Regions from separate parts of the Homo sapiens genome. Here region 2 is linked to region 1. A link means that fine-mapping ties the variant in region 1 to the expression of a gene that starts in the linked region. Tissue or cell type: whole blood. Region 1 holds a variant in brackets; the other region holds the start of a gene. All regions are shown on one strand. Distances are between the middles of the regions.

Region 1 (10,237 bases):
CTACTCAGGAGGCTGAGGCAGGAGAATCGCTTGAACCCGGGAGGCGGAGGTTGCGGTGAGCTGAGATCGCGCCATTGCACTCCAGCCTGGGCAACAAGAGCGAAACTCCATCTCAAAAAAAAAAAAAAAAAGAATTGCAGGCCAGGCACGGTGGCTCATGCTTGTAATCCCACCACTTTGGGAGGCCAAGGTGGGTGGACTGCTTGAACCCAGAAGTTCAAGACCAGCCTGGACAACATGGCGAAACCCCATCTCTGCAAAAAATAGCAAAAAATTAGCCGGGCATGCTGTTTGATGCTTGTAGTCCCAGCTACTTGGGAGGCTGAGGCATGAGAATTACTTGAACTCAGGAGGCAGAGGTTGCAGTGAGCTGAAATCATGCCACTGCAACTCCAGCCTGGGTGACAGAATGAGACCCTGTCTCAAAAAAAATAAATGAATTGCTTAACATTTCTGATATTTGTTATTTAGAATATTGCCCTATTAGATTAAAACATACTGTTATTGGAACTCTGTATTGCATTAGCCTTTATTATGCTAAACCTAAACACCTAATACTACATGCGTTACCAGAATTCTCTATAAATACACCTAATTTCATTTTAAGGACAAACTAGAATCCGTTAGGAATGTAATTTTGATGTAAACCGTTCAATTCCAAATGACTTTTTGAAAGGCAGATTCAAACAGTGAAGGAGAGAGTGCTCAACTTGGACACAAAATCCCTTAAATTTTCATCAGATTTTCTTCAAAATGGAGTTGAGGGTATCCCTGCTGCTAGAGGATTGGTCCTACAGGGTTTTCAGCTTTGAGCTAGTTCACAGCTTAGGACAATACAAATTCTACACAGAGAAATAGGTAGCATTATGATGTAAACTGTCCCCCTCCCACCAAACAAAAACCACATGGGCCTGTCTTTATCAGAGCTATTTTATTTTAGCTGAATCATTTTGTAGATTGTAGTACGTTTCCCTGAATTTTATTACTCAGAATCCTTTGAAATAGGCCAGGCACAGTGGCTCACACTTGTAATCCCAGCACTTTGGGAGGCCAAGGTGGGCAGATTACTTTAGGTCAGGAGTTCGAGACCAGCCTGGCCAACATGACGAAACTCCATCTCTACTAAAAATACCAAAATTAGCCAGGTGTGCCGGCACGTGCCTGTAATCCCAGCTACATGGGAGGCTGAGGCAGGAGAATCACTTGAACCAGGAGGTGGAGGTTGCAGTGAGCCGAGATCGCACCACTGCACTCTAGCCTGGGTGACAGAGTGAGACTCCATCTCAAAAAAAAAAAAAAAAAAAATTCTTTGAAATAGTTACTTTTTAAATTACCTAATATACCACTTTCTTTTCTGCCAAAATTATGAATGGTTTTCCAGTTCAAACTTAGACACACAGTTTACCATTTAAGGCTCCAGGTCTCAGTTTCTCCTCCTAACTTTCCAGCATCTGCCCATACTCTGTATAAGCCACTTGAACTCTGGCTTTGGCTGTTAATCTGTAAATGTCCTAATGCCAGCAACAATATCCTCTTATATACAAATAATTCCAAGCATAGGTAGTCTTCTTGTTTAAAAAGGGGAGGGGGCAGAACTTGCCTTGATTAGATTAGTATGAGTTTCTTTTCTGAATGGCTACGATATTTTAATCTGTGATATTTAAATTATCACCTTATATCCCTCCACGAATTTTCCTGTGCATTAGTCTGATCTCACCAACATTCGTTAATTCAACAGGTAGGAATCCTCAACCTGTGCCTAGGATTCAGCAACAAACCACCTGGAACACATGGTCCCTTAGCACTTGAAGAGGTAGGAATCCTTACTGTAAATACAGTACTCAATTATACTCAGATTTAGTATTTACACTGTTAAGGACTGAGCTTGTCCCCCTAAAATTCACAGGTTAAAGCCTAACCTGCTATGTGACTGTAGACAGAGCCTTTATAAGGGGATTAAATGAGGTCATAAGAATGAGTCCCTAACCCACCAGGACTAGTGTCCTGGTAAGAAGAGGGAGGCACACCAGGAGTTTGCCGGCACGGAGGAAAAGCCCTGTGAGGACACGGGGAGGGCAGCTATCTGTTTACACACCAGGAAGAAATGTCTCACCAGATACCAACCCTGGCCGTCTCCTGGATTTTGGATTTCCAATCTCCAGAACTGTGAGAAAATAAATTTCTGTTTAAGCCACTCAGCTTGTGATGTTCCTTTGTGGCAGCCTGAGCAGACCAGTAACAATATTAACAGTAATAAGGTTCTTACTTTGGGGCCTGAGATGCCTGGGAATGGAACAGGCTGTTTTGTATATGAGCATTTTTAGGGTAGAGTTCATAATTCTAGAGTTTGGATCTGTGACTTTCCACCCAAAAGTCACAAACCACTGCTCTAATGCAAACCTATTATTTCACATTTACACCTCTCACCTAGAAGTGCTTTAATACAGGCTGCTTTGTATCAGGGCTTGGTTTCCTTCTGACCTTTCAAGACATAAAAATCATTACTAGCTTGAGGCCATGCAAAAATAAGCAGTGGGCCATAGTTGACTGTTCCTTATTTTCTATCCCTAAAAAGATTTTAAAATCTAGATCTGTCAACAAGCAAGGCACCCAGCTCAATTTTTTTTTTCTTTTGAGACGGAGCCTCGCTCTTGTTGCCCAGGCTGGAGTACAGTGGCATGATCTCAGCTCACTGCAACCTCTGCCTCCTGGGTTCAAGCCATGCTCCTGCCTCAGCCTCCTGAGTAGCTGGGATTACAGACGTGTGCCACCACGCCCAGCTAACTTTTCTATTTTTGTAGAGATGGGGTTTCGCCATGTTGGCCAGGCTGGTCTCAAACTTCTGACCTCAAGTGATCTGCCCGCCTCAGCCTCTCAAAGTGCTGGGATTACAGGTGTGAGCCACCGCGCCCTGCCACTCAGCTCCTTTTCTACCATCCTGAGTAGCAGTCTATGGCAGACATACTTGACAACAACTCAGGCATACCCTGGGAAGTGACCCTGTGGTCTAAGAAGAATGTATGTTTGGAGTTCCAAGTTAAGGAATCCAGGAGTGGCCAGTCCAGAGACTGACTCCTTATCATCAATGACGGATGTCCATACCCCTGCCCCATTCCTTGGAATGCAGGCTGTATAGGGGATGGTGGCCCTTTGTATTGGGTTAAGTGGAAGTTG[T/C]TAGGTAGAGGTTGCTATGTGAAAATGACATGTTAGACTGCATGCTTTTAAAAAACAGTAGCAATTTTTGGCCGGGTGCGGTGGCTCATGCCTGTAGTCCCAGCACTTTGGGAGGCCGAGGCGGGCGGATCACGAGGTCAGGAGATCGAGACCATCCTGGCTAACACGGTGAAACCCCGTCTCTACTAAGAATACACACACCCAAAAATTAGCTGGGTGTGGCGGCGTGCACCTGTAGTCCCAGCTGCTGGGGAGGCTGAGGCAGGAGAATGGTGTGAACCTGGGAGGCAGAGCTTGCACTGAGCCGAGATCGCGCCACTGCACTCCCGCCTGGGCGACAGAGCGAGACTCCGTCTCAAAAAAAAAAAAAAAAAAAAAAAAAAAAAAAAAAAAGGAGCAATTTTCCTGTCCAGCCCACTGCTCCTGGACTGTTGTGTAATGTAAGTCCACAATAAACCCTATGTCTCATTCACTGGCTCCACATCTCTTCTTCAGCCTCCCTCACGTGGTACCATCCCCACTAGAGTCAATAGCAGTCTGGCATGACAAGTAGTAGCATTAAGCAGAGCCATCTCATGCTTGTTTAACATTTGGAAATCTGCAATGAAAATTATCAAGTTTTGGCTGGGCGTGGTGGCTCACACCTGTAATCCTAGCACTTTGGGAGGCCGAGGCCGAGGTCAGGAGTTCGAGACCAGCCTGGCCAACGTGGTGAACTCTCATCTCTGGGAGAAAAATACAAAAATTAGCTGGGAGTGGTGGTGGGCGTCTGTAGTCCCAGCTACTCAGGAGGCTGAGACAGGAGAATCGCTTGAACCCGGGAGGTGGCGGTTGCAGTGAGCCGAGATTGTGCCACTGCACTCCAGCCTGGGCGACAGAGGGAGACTCCGTCTCAGAAAAAAAAAAAAAAGAACTTTCTGCTGCTTTGAGGGGAGACTGAAGAAGTCAGGCTCTAATGCATCCCTGCTGACCTTGGGATGGGAACAGGGCAAACAGCATTTTCAAGTCATTTCGAAGGAGCATTTGGTTATCATGTTCCTTCTCTACCCTTACTTAAATCTAAGGTGAAGAGTGGAAGCAAAGCCTCATGGTTAAAAACATGCTGGAGCCAAAACACCTGGGTTGGAGTCCTGGCTCTTTCATTACTAGCTATGACTCCAGCAAGCTATTTAACCTTTCAGAACCTATTTTCCCCTCTTTAAGGGGCTTTCAGGGTTAAACGAGTCAACATTTGTTACCTGTTGCCTGGCTCAAGGTTAAAAACTATACAATTTTTTAAAATTCCAGTAAGTGATTTAACACTTTTGCCAGCTGGAGCTAAGGTTTTAAAAAAAGAAGAGGATGTCAGGACAGAACAAAAGAATATAATGGGAGCTTGCAACCTCCTCTTCACTCCCATTACCATGGTGCCACTGAGGTTGGGAGTCCCTGACTTCCCTGTTTAATTCAGGTTCTAATTAAAGACATACATTTGAACTGTAAAATCAGAGAAATCCAATAAGGAAGCCATAGTAGTCCCAGCAATTTATAATAAAACCAAAGACAAACCTAAGAGATTCCAGTCTGTGCCCACACCTCATTATGAAAAGATGCTTAAGTATAACCCACATGATCTTTAAAAGGCAGGAACTGGTGAGTAAGGTGAGTCACAGACCCAGAGTGTGTAGGTGGTACAAGCTACACTTGGCCTGAGGTTCTGATTCTTAAATAGATGAGCTATATGATTCTGCGGCTGCCAAAGCTTATCTCTGGTAAGGTTAATTATGGTTGAATTCATAGTCACCAGGAAGAATAGCAGAATTCTAAAGAAACTCTTAAAACCCAGAGGTGCTATAACTGAGCAACATAATGAAAGGGCAAATTTAAAGTGGCCAGGGGTAGTGTAAGGCAGATTAACATTTACAGTGAGTAAACTCAGGAATGGTCAGATCTGCTGTCAAAAGACAAGTCAAACATCATGGAAGTATTGTTGGAGAAGGATAACGAGTAGCTACAGAAGTTACATTGATGATGAGGCAGTTATCTAAGAAATGACAGATAAGATATTAAAAATGGTCTTTATATACTGATAACTACTGAACTACAAAAATGTGTAGTTTTGTAAAAAATCAAAGAAATTTACTATTTCAGTTGACAAGTCTTTCCCTCCAACTTCAGTATCCACTTTCCCTCATTTAACAGTATCCAAAAATGCATTTAGGAATATGATAATCATTTCTGGTCTAAGCATGCAATTTAAGGGATTTCCTGCTTGAGCTAGCCCTATGGTTGTCTTCCAACTGCCTACTAGGGAAATAATTTATCATTTTTTGACATAACCCAGTGGTTCCCAGATTTTGCTGCACATTAGAACTATGGGACTTGAAAAAACATTCCTCTGCTCGGGTCACACTCCATACTAATTAATTCAGAATGTCTGGATGTGGGAGTCGGGCATCACTTTTTTTTTTTTTGAGACGGAGTCTTGATCTGTAGCCCAGGCTGGAGTGCAATGGTACCATCTCGGCTCACTGCAAGCTCCGCCTCCCGGGTTCGAGTGATTCTCCTGCCTCAGCCTCCTGAGTAGCTGGGACTACAGGCGTCCACCACCGTGCCCGGCTAATTTTTGTATTTTTAGTAGAGATGGGGTTTCACTGTGTTGGCCAGGCTGGTCTTGAACTCCTGACCTCAGGTGATCCGCCCACCTCGGCCTCCTAAAGTGCAGGGATTACAGGCGTGAGCCACCGCACCCAGCGAGTTTTTTTTTTTTTTTTTTTTTTTTAATGATTCCCAGGTTATTCCAAAATGCAGCAGTTTGAGAACCATGGACATAATCTTACAGAGTTGCTCCACTTCTTATGATTAAAATTGCGAAGGCTGGGTGCTACTCTCCATCATATTTGGAGATGAACCATTTTACAGAGGTTTCTTGGGGCATGCTTTGACTGGATCCCTGAACAGTTAGGTTGAGGGATTAAAAAGACTTTTAAAGTGGATGACTTAAATCCTACCCATCGTCTGTATTACTATATCCAATTATTTAGAATTCTAGTTCCCACTTGGGCTGCAAATTCAAAAGAATTGAACTGCCTTAATGATTACTTTTATGTATATCCTAAATTCCTGATGTGAACATAATTCCTATTTTAGATAATACAAATAAGATTATTTAAAGCAATTATTTCTAAGGCCAGGTGTGATGGCTCACACCTGTAATCCCAGCAATTTGGGAGGCCGAGGTGGGCAGATTACTTGAGGTCAGAAGTTCAAGACCAGCCTGGACAACATGGGGAAACCCTGTCTCCACTAATACAAAAAAAAAAAAAAAAAATTAGCCGGGCGTGGTGGCATGCGCCTGTAATCCCAGCTACTGGGGAGCCTGAGGCATAAGAATTGTTTGAACCTGGGAGGCAGAGGTTGTGGTGAGCTGGGATCGTGTCACTGCACTCCAGCCTGGGTGACAGAGTGAAACTGTGTCAAAAAGATAAAATAAGCAATTATTTCTTACTCAATATATCACTCATAATATTCATTATCTTTATTTCAAGCCCAGGAGAAGCAATTCATAACTTGCCTGCATTCTGCAGGCCCCATTAGTACCTAGTTGTAGTAACTGGTGAATTAAAACCATTACAAACCTGCAGTTTCAGGATGCTAGTTATTAGAACACCTGTCCATATGACTTTCTAACTTCTTGGCTCTCCTTCTGATCTGACTACCTCCATTAATTTGTTTGCACTCCCTAACTTGAAATCGTGACCTCATTTGTTCCTTTGTCAGTCTAGACACCCATAGCATGACCTGTCCTAAATTCCTACCCCACACTCTTAACCTCCTGACATCTCCACCTACGTGTACCTACCCCAGACCAATTTCACATTCTAACAGAGGGAGATAAACAACCAAAATGTTTAGTGTGCTAAATAAAGAGTAAGAACTACAAGCCAGGCATGGTGGTTCACACCTGTAATCCCAGCACTTCGCGAGGCTGAGGTAGGAGGATAACCTGAGCTCAGGAGTTTTGAGATTAGCTTGGGCAACATAGCAAGACCTCATCTCTACTAAAAATAAAAAAAGTTAGCTGGGTGTGGTGGCACGCATTTTAGTCCCAGCTACTTGAGAGGCTGAGGCGGGGAGGATCATTTGAGCCCAGGCCAAGGCTGCGGTGAACTATGATCACACTACTGCACTCCAGCCTGGGTGATGCTGTCTCAAAAACAACCACCAAAAAATCCCCCAAAAACTATGAGTCTTGGTGCTGAGCAACTGGTAGTCACATGCAGAAGAATGAAGCTGGAGCCCTAAGTCACAATAAAAAAAATTAAAATAGACCAAAGACCTAAATGAAAGAGCTAAAAACATAAAACTCTTAGAAGAAAATAGGCATAAATCTTTATGACTTGGGTTAGGCAATGTTTTCTTAGATATAACACCCAAGCACAAGCAACTAAAGAATAGAAAAGGTGGACTTCATCAAAATTGAAAATTTTGTACTCCAAAAGACACTTCTAAGAAAGGGAAAAATGGTAGGAGAAAATGTTTACAATTCATGTATCTGACAAAGAAGTAGCACCTGAAATTTAAAACACTTGCAACTCAACAATAAAATTATAAGTAAACCAATTTAGAAATTGGCAGAGGATTTGAATACACATTTTTCCAAAGACATACAGATGGCCAGTAAGCACATTTAAAGATGCTCAACATCACTAGTCATTATAGGAATGCAAAATAAAACCATAATGAGATACTTCACACCCACTCGGAAGACTAGAACCAATCTGAAACAAGTGATCACAAGGATATTGGAGAAACTGGAATCCTCTGACACTGCTGGTGGGAATAGTAATATATAATATGGTGAGGCTACTTTAGAAGAGTTTGGCAGTTCCTCAAAGTGATACAGCCTTTCATCTCTAAGTATATACCCAAGAGAATTGGAAATGTTGATACAAAAACTTGTACATGAAAGTTCATAGCAACATCATTCATAATAATGAAACAACCCCAATGTCCAACAGATGAATGTACAATTTAAACGTGGTATACCCATACAATTACCTATATTGTTTAGCAATAAAAACGAAGCACTGATACATGCTAAGCCTCAAAAACATGCTCAAAAACAAGTGTAGAAGCCAGTCTCTGAAAAACAAATTGTATAACCCTGTTTATATGAAATGACCAGAATGAGAAAATCTAGGCCGGGCACGGTGGCTCATGCAGCTGTAATCCCAGCACTTTGGGAGGCCAAAGCGGGTGGATCACCTGAGGTCTGGAGTTTGAGACCAGCCTGGCCAATATGGTGAAACCCCATCTCTATTAAAAATTCAAAAATTAGCCAGTCGTGGTGGTGGGTGCCTGTAATCCCAGCTACTCGGGGAGGCTGAGGCAGGAGAATCACTTGAATCCGGGAGGCGGAGGGTGCATTGAGCTGACAATGTGCCACTGCACTCCAGCCTGGGTGACAGCAAGACTGTCTCAAAAAAAAAAAAAAAAAAAAAACAGAAAAAAGAAACTAGAGACAATACAATAGTGGCTGCCTAGGACTGAGGAATTTGGGAGGAAAGAAGAAAATGATGACTAATAACAATAGAATTTCTTTTTGGGGTGATGAAAATGTTCAAGAATTTTAAGAGTGGTGATGGTTGCATAACTTTGAGAATATAAGAAATTCTTAAATTGTACACTTCAAAAGGTGACTTTTGGCCAGGTGTAGTGGCTCCCAAAGTGGCTGTAAAACATTCCAGCACTTTGGGACGCAGAGGAGGACTGCTTGAGACCAGGAAGCTTGAGAACAGCCTGGGCAACATAGCAAGACCCCATCTCTTAAAAAACAAAATAGTGCTTGGTAGCACACACATTAATCCCAGCTACTCAGCAGGCTGAAGCGGGAGGATTCCTTGATCCCAGGAGTTAAAGGCTGCAGGGGACTATGATTGCGCCACTGCACTCCAGCACAAGACCCTGTCTCTTTTTTTCTTTTTGAAAAGAGTGACTTTTATCTAAAAAGTTAAAACTATAGAAGAAATTAAAGCAGGGAAGACTGATAGAGTGTGAGTTTGTGTGTGTGTTCTATCTTAAATAAGGTTGTCAAAAAAAAAAAAGATCTCAATCAAGCACAAAGAATAATCAAATAGTAAATTGTTAACATTACATATTTAAACTCCACTACCAAAATGACTGAAATATACTTTTGCTAATTTAGAAATCGAGGGACTATAATCCAAACTAAATCCTGAAATTTAAAATTACTGTTTTTGAGAATTGTAAGATTAATCGAACAAAGCCTTAAATCCTTAGTCTATATAAAGATTTTAGATTCCTTTGCCATAGTTTAAGGTAACAAAATTTAATACAGCAACAAGGACAAATGTGTATTTCAAGTTTTCCAAAAATATTTGTCACAGCTTTGCAGCCACTTTCATGCGTGTTGTATTTTTTAAATTTTCTATTTCTTTTTTTACTGTCTTTGGTTTGCCTAAATCCTCATCGGTCTTTTTTATGCTTGAGTACTCTGTAAACACTTCTGAAACAGAAAGTACACTCCTGGCCAGGCCCGGTGGCTCACGCCTGTAATCCCAGCACTTTGGGAGGTCGAGGCAGGTGCAACACGAGGTCAGGAGTTCAAGACCAGCCTGGCCAACATGGTGAAACCCCGTCTCTACTAAAAATACAAAAGTTAGCTGGGTGTGGTGGTGCACGCCTGTAATCCCAGCTATTCAGGAGGCTGAGGCAGGAGAATCGCTTGAACCAGGGAGGCGGAGGTTGCAGTGAGCCAAGATCACATCACTGCACTCCAGCCTGGGCGACAGAGCAACTGTCTCAAAAAAAAAAAAAAGTACACCCCTGAGTTTAGAGCATCTTCACCTTCCCACAGCAAGAGAGGTGTGACCTCAACTCACCATTTTCAAAGACAGAATAAGGCTTTAAAATAACCATTACAGTCCAAAATCCATATATTTACTTTTTATTGAATTTGTTAATGTTACAGAATTCTTGCACTGCCAAACCATGCCTGAGAATTCAAACAAATGGTACAATGGACAGCCTCATCCACCCATCATACAGTATATTAAAACTT
Region 2 (10,237 bases), 22 kb after region 1:
GTTTAAGTCTAGATTTCTCACCAAAGTTTCTAGAAAACCACTGGGCTCCAAGAACTCAATTATTTACTGAAACGTGACAAATGCTCAACAGTGTATACCTTCAAGAATTAAATCTTTCTAACATTCTCCCAAAAATCCACTTTAAAGATGGAAGTGGCTGGGCCTAGCAGCTCATGCGTGTGATTCCTTTGCTTTGAGATCACTTGCGGCCAGGAGTTTTGAGACCAGCCTAGGTAAAATAGACCTCATCTACAGAAAAAAAAAGTAAGATTAGTCAGGGGTGGCAACTCACACCTGTAGTCCCAGCTACTCGGGAGGCTGAGGTGGGAGGATCACTTGAGCCCAGGAGTTCAAGACTACAATGAGCTATGATCATGCCACTGCATTCCAACCTGGGTGACAAAGTGAGACTGTCTCAAAAAAATGAAAAAATAGAGATGAAAGAGGCCTACAGGGCCTACAAACAACCAAGGATCTAACTCAAATGACAGCCTCCTTTATAACCACCTCAATGGCTTCCCTCTCAAGAATCTGTCTATAACAGCATGACCTTGAATAAGATCTGTTAATTCAGACACAAAACTGGGCACATTAAGTACCTTGGTACTTAAATCTTGAGCTGGTTGGTAAATGTGAAATAGGATCTTAATATATAATACGTTTGCTGCTAATGAAAAATTTCCCCTTTCAAATGTACAGGTAAAGAACTAATATGCTAACTACTATAAGGACCAGGGTCAAGAACTTTAAGATTGTATGTGACATCTGGCTGGGCTCAGAGGCTCATGCCTGTGATCCCAGCACTTTGGAAGGCCGAGGTGGGTGGATCACCCGAGGTCGGGAGTTTGAGACCAGCCTGAACAACATGGAGAAACCCCGTCTCTACTAAAAACACAAAATTAGCCAGGCGTGGTGACACATGCCTGTAATCCCAGCTACTCGGAAGGCTGAGGCAGGAGAATCGCTTGAACCCGGGAGGCTGAGGTTGCGGTGAGCTGAGATCGCACCATTGCACTCCAGCCTGTGCAACAAGAGCGAAACTCTGTCTCAAAAAAAAAAAAAGAAAAAAAGACTGAATGTGACATCTGCAGCTCTCAGTATACCGAGAAATAGAAAAAGATAAAGCACATGTAGCAGAGACTGGTGGATCTGAGTGAAGAACATATGGGAAGGAGTGTTTCTCAGTGTTGCAGGTTAGTGGAATACCTCTACTAGGATGGCCACTTAGGGCCAATGACTAGATGCTAAGAAAACAAAAAAAACAATATAAAAGCTAGTCTAGGCCGGGTGCTGTGGCTCACACCTGTAATCCCAGCACTTTGGGAGGCTGAGGCGGGCGGATCACGAGGTCAGGAGTTCAAAACCAGCCTGACCAACATGATGAAACTCCGTCTCTACTAAAAATACAAGAATTAGCCAGGTGTGGTGGCGGGCGCCTGTAATCCCAGCTACTCGGGAGGCTGAGGCAGAAGAATCGCTTGAAACCAGAAGGCGGAGGTTGCAGTGAGCCGAGATTTTGCCACTGCACTCCAGCCTGGGCAACAAGAGGGAAACTTCGTCTCAAAAAAAAAAAAAAAAAAAAAAAGCTAGTCTACCTTCAGGTTGAACAGAACTTAAATGCTTGTACTAGCTGATACTTACTTATATCCCTGGCAAGGGTGAAGTATGTAAGTTATTTAAGACACTTTTCACTATCTCAAAAGTAACCAAAATAGATCAAGATCAAAATAACCCTGAAGATGAACATGTAATTTATAGTCAGTAACAGAAAAACACAGGTTCTGTTTAAATAATCTCCATAGTTTAACAAAATCAATTTCTAATCCTCAGTGAACTTGAAACCAAAATTTTATCTTCAGAAAAGTGCTATTTTGCCAAGTTCAACATGGCCAAACACTATTCTTCCAGTCACTCACGTTTTCAAGAACCTGCAGTCACTTAGGAAAGAAAAGACTTAAGAAGAGCCAAACTTTACAACAGAACCGGAGCCACACACACAGGCAGTTCCACAACACCAAATGGTAAGAACCTCACATTCCCTCCTCCCCATTATTTACAGGTCAAGCCCCAGGAGACAGAAAAGAGAAAGACACATTAAGGAAGCCAACAAGTGGTTGGGAATCAAACTCAAGTCTAATCACTTCTACTCAACACCACTACAAAGAAATCTCAAGAGTGGAGAAGCCATCGTTCCTGAAAGTTTCCCATTATCAATCTGGGGGTTTCACTTTGGTTAAGCTCACAAAATGATGTTTTCACAGTAGGACATTAATGCCTAGCTGTGGTAGGTGTTCAACAAATGTCAATAATATTAACCCTGCTTTTTGAGTAAGTTATCTAAAGCTATAGATACTAACATCCAGAGAAGTCAAAAGACAGTTTTCAGTTAAGGAAAGTATTTCCTCCACTGTGCCTCGCACTCACTGGCATTGCCTATAAAATGCAACCTTCAAACTGGAGACAGTTTATCAAGATCCTTTATTTCTTTAAACCGGGAGCAAAGGATTTTTTCATCTTACAGCAGAACCATATCTTCATTTGTTTTTTCCTACTTTATGAACCCTCCAAAATATAGCACTTACTTAACATCAACCTTAAAGTTGACTGCCATAGACTGGACTTGACAAAATGTTAATTTCAAATCTTCTAAACTACCCAATTTTTAAAAATTACTATTTTTTTGAACTTTAAAAAATAACATGTTTACAAATATAATTCCATTCCTATGAAGTTTTAGAAAAAATTATGGTGTTAGAATAGTGGTTATGTTGAAGGTGAATGCAGTGAGTATGTGTTAGGAGGGGAACCTTGTTCTGTATCAGTAATACTCAGTTTCTTGACCTGGTGCTTATTGCACAGGTTGGTTGCACTGTGTGAACACATAAAACCTCTATCTCTCTGTAAGTATGATATACTTCAATTACAAAAACATATATTCACTTGCTTATTGGAGAGGATGTGAAAAACATCCACATTACTTTTGAAACCAAAACTAAGTACAATCACCGATGTTAAAAGTAAAAATTTTGAAGCGACAAAATCCACTTTAGCTGTCTCAAATGAAAAGTCCTAACCAGAACTGGAAGTAGGCAAGCTCTCACAGGATTTTAGAGTCAGCAGCTAATTTCATGAGCACACGGAAGGGCTGCCTCCATGGAGTGAGAAAGAGTAGACAGAACCCATTTGAGTCCTAATAAGCATATCTAGAGCACAAGGCTACTATGATGCTGCTTTGGGGCCAAAGGAAAACCTAACTTGTATCCAATATCTATCCCAAAGGTTATCTAAACACATTTGTAACCAGACTATACCTTATTTGCATTGCCTGAACCCTGAGGCCGCTGTAATCAACCTCTTTTTGCTCCAATTCTTTCCATTCATCTTCGTCCTGTAAAACAAACGCCATTTGATCAATTAAAGCTATTTGTAGACATATAACTAAGCAAATAACACACTACGAAAAGTGGATCAAGTGGCTGGAACCTAAACTAAGTATGTACTTGTCTTCTGGTCAAAGCCCTTGCTTCGTTCTGGGGCAAACTAGGCTAAATGGAGGACAAACATGCTCGTAGGCTAACACTATACTTCCGCTGGGTTCCTGCATGGGAGCTGTTACTTTAAGCAACTAAGAAAAGCCGAAGGAAGAAGTCAATAGGAATTTCACAACTACATTTCTACTTCAACCTTGCCACCGAGAGTTTTCTTTTTCTTTCACGGGCTTAGAGACTAAGTCATCACAAAAGAGCTGCTACAAATGCGGCTGCTGAAAGCGAAAATTCAGCTCAAACTACTGGGCTGAGGTCAGCACACGGAATTACTCAGCCTAGACGTCACCCGATAAACGCTGCTCTGTGCTGGGCACTGCGGCCCCAGACCTAGTGCCCCCGGAGGGTGGCGCCGCCCGGGCCTTGGCTAACGCCGAGCGACGCGGGGTGGGAAGGGCGGCTCCACCGCGGATATCGGAAGGGGTCCCGGCCCTGGCGAGCCCAGCCCGAGGTGGAGAGCCTGCGTCACGTGGCGGCCCGCGCCCGTCCGCCCGGCCTCCGCGGCCCCTCCCGGACGCTTCCCCGGCAGGCGGGGGCGGGCACATGGGGCGCCGGCGCGCGGCCCGGGCCCCGAGTGCCGGCCTCCCGGCCCCTCACCTTCGTCACAGCCTTGGTGGCGGCCCCTGGGCCCGCAGCCCCCGCGCTGGCGGTCCCGCCGTCACCCGGCCGGGTCCCCGCGCCCGCCCCGCCGCCCGCCGCACCCGCGGCTCCACTGCTTCCGCCGGCGCTGCCCGCTGCGCCCGCGGCACTCGCCGCCCGGTTGCTCCGCTCCTTCTTCTTCTTCTTGTCCCTCTTGGCAAAGAAGTTGTCCAGGCTCCGCTCCTCCGTCTCAGCCATGGCCTCGGCCTCCTCGACCCGGATGGGTGGGGCCGGCGGCGGGCGCGGCCCGCGGGGCTCCGAGCTCGGGGTCGAGGCCGGCTCTGCGCTCACGCTGCCGGGCGCGGCGACGCCTCAGCCCCGCGGGGTCGCCGAGGCGTGCGCGGCGAGACGGGCGGCTCCCCCTGCGTGCTGGCGAGCGGTGGTACGGTCCGCCCGGGGGCTCGCGCGCCGCCGCTGTCGCCCGAGGCTGCCGGGGCTGCCGCTGCTGCTGCGACGGCGGAGCAGGATTCCGCTCTCCCCACAACCTGAGGGGAAAAGGCACGCGCGAGCCAGAGGTTCTGGCGAGAGTGCTCGGCTAGCAGCGGCGCGTGCCGGAGGAAGAGGCGCGCGCGCAGGCCTGGAGAGGAGGGGAAGGGAGTGGGGAGGGGAGGGAGAGGGAGGAGGGAGGGCGGGCCGCTAGAAGAGAGAGGAAGCGCCTGCGCCTGCGTATTTTGCTCTGCCTGCCGCTGTGGGATCGCCAAGGGGCGGGCGGCGGGAGGAGATGGAGGCGGAGCTGGAAAGAGAGCCAATCAGGTGCCAGGACGAAGCTCTTAGGTGACAATCCCTGACCCAGACGGGGCGGAGTCCAAGCATGGGGGCGGGGAGAGGAGGGCATATGCAAAATAAGTGACGTGCCGGGCGACTCCGGTTTCCCGATTGGCCGAGGGTTTAGTCTTGAGGGCGGGCATGTTGAGGGCTGGTTGATGACTTGGCTAAAGAGGTCCAGCAGGAGGGGCAGTGGGTTCCTTTTGGACGCATGCGCAGGATGCACGTGTGTTTCCTGGCCCAGAACAAACCGTGGCCCCATAGTAGTCGTTTGAACTGTCGCGAAACGGACAGGCACTGCGTTAAGCCAACTGTGTTAAAGATTGTTCCTCTCCTCTGATCGCTTCTGTACTTCCACCCCCTCTGGAGTGGCAACCATTACTTTTCTTCTTTACCGGTTGATTGTGAAAGTGAGAGGAGCAGTGAGCCTGAAGTTTAGGTCCCATTTACTAAAAGATCTTTCATAGGCTGGTTGGTAGGTAGAAAGGGATTTTGTCTGAACTCCACCCTCTGGATTATGTTTACCAAGGTCAAGTTCAATAAATCCTATCGTCAAGTCCCTAATCTGTAAAGTGGGTATACTATTTCTTACAAGATAGGGGGATGGAGGGAAGAGAGTCAACATTATTAGCTGCTCAGCACATTGCTTAACGCCCTGACTTGAGTCTAGATGATGATACAGTTTATCCTTAGCTTCTATCCCTGATAAAAGGAGGGGACTGTCTTATCATAGGGGTGGAGACCAAAATGCCCAGGCGAAAGCCAGGTTTAAATGGGTTTAAAGCCCATTTAAATACCCTTGGGGCCTTGAAAATGAAATGAATTCTATATGCAAAAGGTGGTCTAAAGTAAGCTCTTAAACTTTCTACTTCCTCCTTCTAAAAGCAGAAGAGGGAGCTGTCACAACCATTGAGGAAATGACTCAGACAAATGTTGGTAGCCATATGGGGTAGATAGAATCCAGCCAGTAAATGGAGAGACTTCTTCGTCTTTTCCTTTACAGTTACCCCATTAAAGTTTCTCTTTTCCTACCCCCTACTTACACTGCTATTAAAGAATTAACTTCTGGCTGGGCGCGGTGGCTCACGCCTGTAATCCCAGCACTTCAGGAGGCCGAGGCAGGCGCATCACCTGAGGTCAGGAGTTCGAGACCAGCCTCACCAAAATAATGAAACCCCGTCTCTACTAAAAACACGAAAATTAGCCGGGCGTAGTGGCTAACGCCTGTAATCCCAGCTACAGGTTGAGGCTGGAGAATTGCTTGAACCCGGGGGTGCGGAGGTTGCAGTAAGCCGAGATCGCCTCATTGCAATCCAGCCTGGGCAACAACAGTGAAACTCCGTCTCAAAAAAAAAAAAAAAGTCTAACTTCTGAATGTCAAAAGAAATCAAGGACCTAGCCTTGGCCAGCAAGTAGCTTGAGCTTATACATATACTATTCCCCAAACATGAACAGCTCCCAAGGTGACTTCCTTCTATGACAACATATATCTTCCTGTGATGCAGGCCAGGTTCAGTACTGCCCATCACCATCACCCTCCCTTACCATCGCTAATCAAATTTATTTTCTTTCTTTTTTTTCTTTCCTTCTTTTTTCTCCCTTCCTCTTTTCTTTCCTTCTTTTCTTCCTCCCCCCTCTTTCTTCCTTCCTCCCTCCCTCTCTTTCATTTATTTATTTATTTATTTACTTACTTATTTTTTGAGGCAAAGTCTTGCTCTTGTCACCAGGCTGGAGTGCAATGGCATGTCAGCTCGCTGCAACCTCTGCCTCCCAGGATCAAGCGATTCTCCTGCCTTAGCCTCCTGAGTAGCTGGGATTACAGGCACCCGCCACCACACCCAGCTAATTTTTGTATTTTTAGTAGAGACGGGGTTTCACCATGTTGGCCAGGCTGGTCTCAAACTCCTGACCCTCGTGATCCACCCACCTCAGCCTCCCAAAGTGCTGGAATTACAGGTGTGAGCCACCATGCCCGGCCCTCTCCCTCTCTTTCTTTCCTCATCTATGAAGCACTTATTTTGCTATATTTCGGGCAAAGTGCTTTATTCAAAAGTGAGTAATTTGTGATTCCTGCATTCAATTCCCTTATAATCTAGAAGAGAAGATCTAGATATAAATAAGTTTCAGTTATTTATATCTTTCTTAAGTCCTTATCAATTCATCATTGTCTTGAAAGAATTAATGACTTGAGAAAATACACAGAAGGAACAGTAGTTGAGGGCTGACGCTGCAGAATTTCCCACTACATTTTTCAGTGTGATTGATGGCATGATCCCAGAACTTGATCATGTGTAAGAAATTCAGGTCAGGCCAGTAGAGAGACCAGTGTCTTTGTGGTTGTGTCATTGTTTGTAGTAATTCTCTCCTCTGTGAAGCTGGTCCCTTCCTCTTTGAATCACCTGCCCTAAAATTGACAGCATCTGTTCCCATCAGTTGCTCCTTTTAAACCTCCCCTACCACCCTTCTCCAGATTGGTTGCACAGTGCCCTGAATCATGCTATCATTATCATCGTTACCAGACACCCCCTCATCTTTGAAGCATCCTTCTGCCCTCTCTCTCTTTTTTTCTTTTTAAGAGGCGGGGCTCAAGCAATCCTCTGGCTTCAGCCTCCAGAGTAGCTGGGACTACAGGCAGGTGCCATCATGTACAGCTGAATTTTTTTTTTTTTTTTTTTACATTTTTAGAGAAAGGGATCTTGCTATGTTGCCCAGGCTGGTCTGGAACTCCTGGGCTCAATTGATCCTGCTGCCTTGGCCTCCTGAGTAGCTGGGATCACAAGTAGGAGCCGCTGTGCCCGGCTCCTCCAGCTCTCTCTTGACAGAGGTGTCTTCCCCTCTGCTGTCCAATGTGTTTGGACCGTCTGCATACTTAAAGCAAACAGACTTTCACTTGTACTTGCCAGATGGAAAACTTGTATAGTAATGCAGACTATTCCCAGGTATTTCTGCACATCTTCCAAGGTTCCTAATGCTGTCTGAACATGGCAGTTTCCCTCTGGGTCCTCTGAAGTGGTGCAATCCGAAGGACATCATATATCTCCCTCAACAAGGCCTGCTGAGTTCCAATATTCCATGAGCTCAAGAGCTGGCAAAGGGCAGTTGAGCCCAGCCCCATTGTTTCTGAGTTCTTTTCTGCTGAGCTATTTGATCCAAGATCCATTCTGCTACCTAGGCTGGAAATTCCACTCATGCTCAGCTCAAAGGAATGCAGCTCATGCTGGCCAAAGTGTTCACCAGGAAATGGGTGGCTAGAATTCTTCTTTTCATTTCTGGTTTCCTCTCTAACATCTGTAAGGCCAACTATGCCACTGCCTGAACTGTCCCCTTTTCAACTGGGGAGCAACTACTTACAGGTCATCTCTTCTGGGAGTCTTTTCTTATTCTCTACAGGCAGCTTGATTTCCTAAACTTCAGAGGCCCAGAGTCTTTTCATTTGGTATGATCGTTGATGCCTTCCTGGTATTCGCATGATTGGTTTGTTATTTAACCACTCTCATTCATTCACTCAAGTATATAAAACATGTATTTAATGAGCACCTACTATATGCCGGGCCCTATGTTAGGAGTTAAAGGAGAGATAAGCCCTGCCTTCACAGAGCTTATTGTACACTAAGCTGGTAACTAGAAGGAGACACACAGGAACACCTACAAAAGCACATTGAAAACTCTTGAAGGCAGGAATGGCATTGAGCATATAGCCTATATCACACAAGCATTTAACTGATGTTTGTAAAATGAAAAATGTCTCCATTAATCTCCAGTTTTCCACATTAACAGAGGACTGCACAAATCATGGACTCTAAAAGTGTTTCCTTGTTGGCTTATGAGCATAGGCTAACTCTGCCACACATAACAAATAATTCAACCTTCTCCCTCAACCTCAAGTTCCTCCTTAGCTCATTTTTGACATTAGGGTCCTAGTTGGAGGATACATGGAGAGCAAGAGGAGGCCCCAGACAACAGCAACTATCCAGGAGAGCTTATTTCCAGAAAGAGAAAAGGGCTGCCATACACCCCCCTTCTCCTAGACACAGACACACACACACACACATACACCCACCACCATGGCTTGAGAAGGGAGTCAGACTCATTAACCCCACCCCCAATGGGTCTGGTTTGCTGATTGTTGAACCACATAAAATTGCTGCTATTTGACTGTTTTTGACCTGCCAAAAACAATCATTTCAAAAGGTTAAACCTAACATATTAGAAAATAAACCAAAAAGTTCTGTAAATAAATGAAAAGCTTGGGAACAACCAACCTATCCATCAAGGTGACCTCCTTGAGTGTCTCGGTGAGGGAAGGGCTGCAATGTGATGACAATTGAATGATCAGCAACCGAATCAACTTTATTGTATGGAGAATGTGTGAACTGAAGGATGAGGGAAGAGCCTGGAGAGTAGAAAAGAGGAAGGAAAAAGAAATAGGATAAAGCCATGAGGCCAGAAGTTGGCACTTATTACCCACCACTGTCCAAGAAAGAGCAGTGTGAAATTTGTTTTCACATAGACGTGCCCTGCTGTAAGGTGGAGATGATTCAGTAGACCGCACCCTGATTTGGCTGAAATAGCCCTCAAAAGGTCAGCTTTCCTTAACTCTTGGGATACACTCACCAACCAGCCTGTTGATGACTAACTTGACTCTCTGAGACTGCTGATATTGGGAAAAGGGTGCCCTAGTTGGGAGAGGAACATTCCAGTTACTGAAAGACTAACACTGTTAATGAATACATTGGTATGTATGTGGTTATATAGTTTGGCCTCTTATGAGTTGGATTGCTGGGAGTCAGGCTTTTTCAGGGAGATGAACCCTGACAGGACACTGATATGACTATGACCCAGGTTCAGCTCTGTGGCAAATTCGCCAAGGAAAAGCTACTCTGGGTGGCCACTTTGGGAGCCAGTCAAACGACTCTGGCACAAAGCAAGACATTCTGACTCAATCGTTTTGATCACAGAGTGCAAGGGGTATAATTACGTGGGCAAGACACGATTATTCTGTTCCTGACCCTAGCTCCATTCTTGATCTTACTTCATGATCCAACAGCTACATGTGAGATTGTCTGGCATTTTCTGCTTCTGACTCAGAGCCTCCGTATTCCTGGTTACTAGGTCACTAGGTCAATGGTATTGTCATCCTCTTTAGGCTGACAAAAAGCAGAGAGAGGGTCAGAGTGCAGGGAGTGCAGGGAAACCTTCTGCGTGCTGGGTGGAAGGCAAATCCTATACTTTCTCTCGGGGACCTTGCTTTTTACTTGGTGGTCAAGCGCATGCTTTCTAGAGTCAAA

Evidence for each region. PIP is the estimated chance that this variant, and not a neighbour inherited with it, causes the effect.
Region 2: it holds the start of CDV3, and the variant in region 1 is fine-mapped to the expression of CDV3 in whole blood (TOPMed, PIP above 0.99).

What each region holds. Positions count from the first base shown.
Region 1 is chr3:133,590,132-133,600,368 of GRCh38, reverse strand. It overlaps TOPBP1 (DNA topoisomerase II binding protein 1), which reads left to right. Exons shown (of 28, transcript NM_007027.4): 28 at 1-131. LOC124909437 (a long non-coding RNA gene) reads left to right here and starts at 1,292. Exons shown (of 2, transcript XR_007096110.1): 1 at 1,292-1,813; 2 at 1,907-2,194. CDV3 (CDV3 homolog) reads right to left here. Exons shown (of 5, transcript NM_017548.5): 5 at 10,108-10,237. The variant T/C (reference allele first, on the strand shown) is at 3,175.
Region 2 is chr3:133,568,190-133,578,426 of GRCh38, reverse strand. It overlaps CDV3 (CDV3 homolog), which reads right to left and starts at 4,741. Exons shown (of 5, transcript NM_017548.5): 1 at 4,143-4,741; 2 at 3,312-3,388. The coding sequence starts at 4,382. RefSeq lists silencers at 3,773-4,162, 4,193-4,302, 4,323-4,862 and enhancers at 5,243-5,412, 5,069-5,570, 5,513-5,752.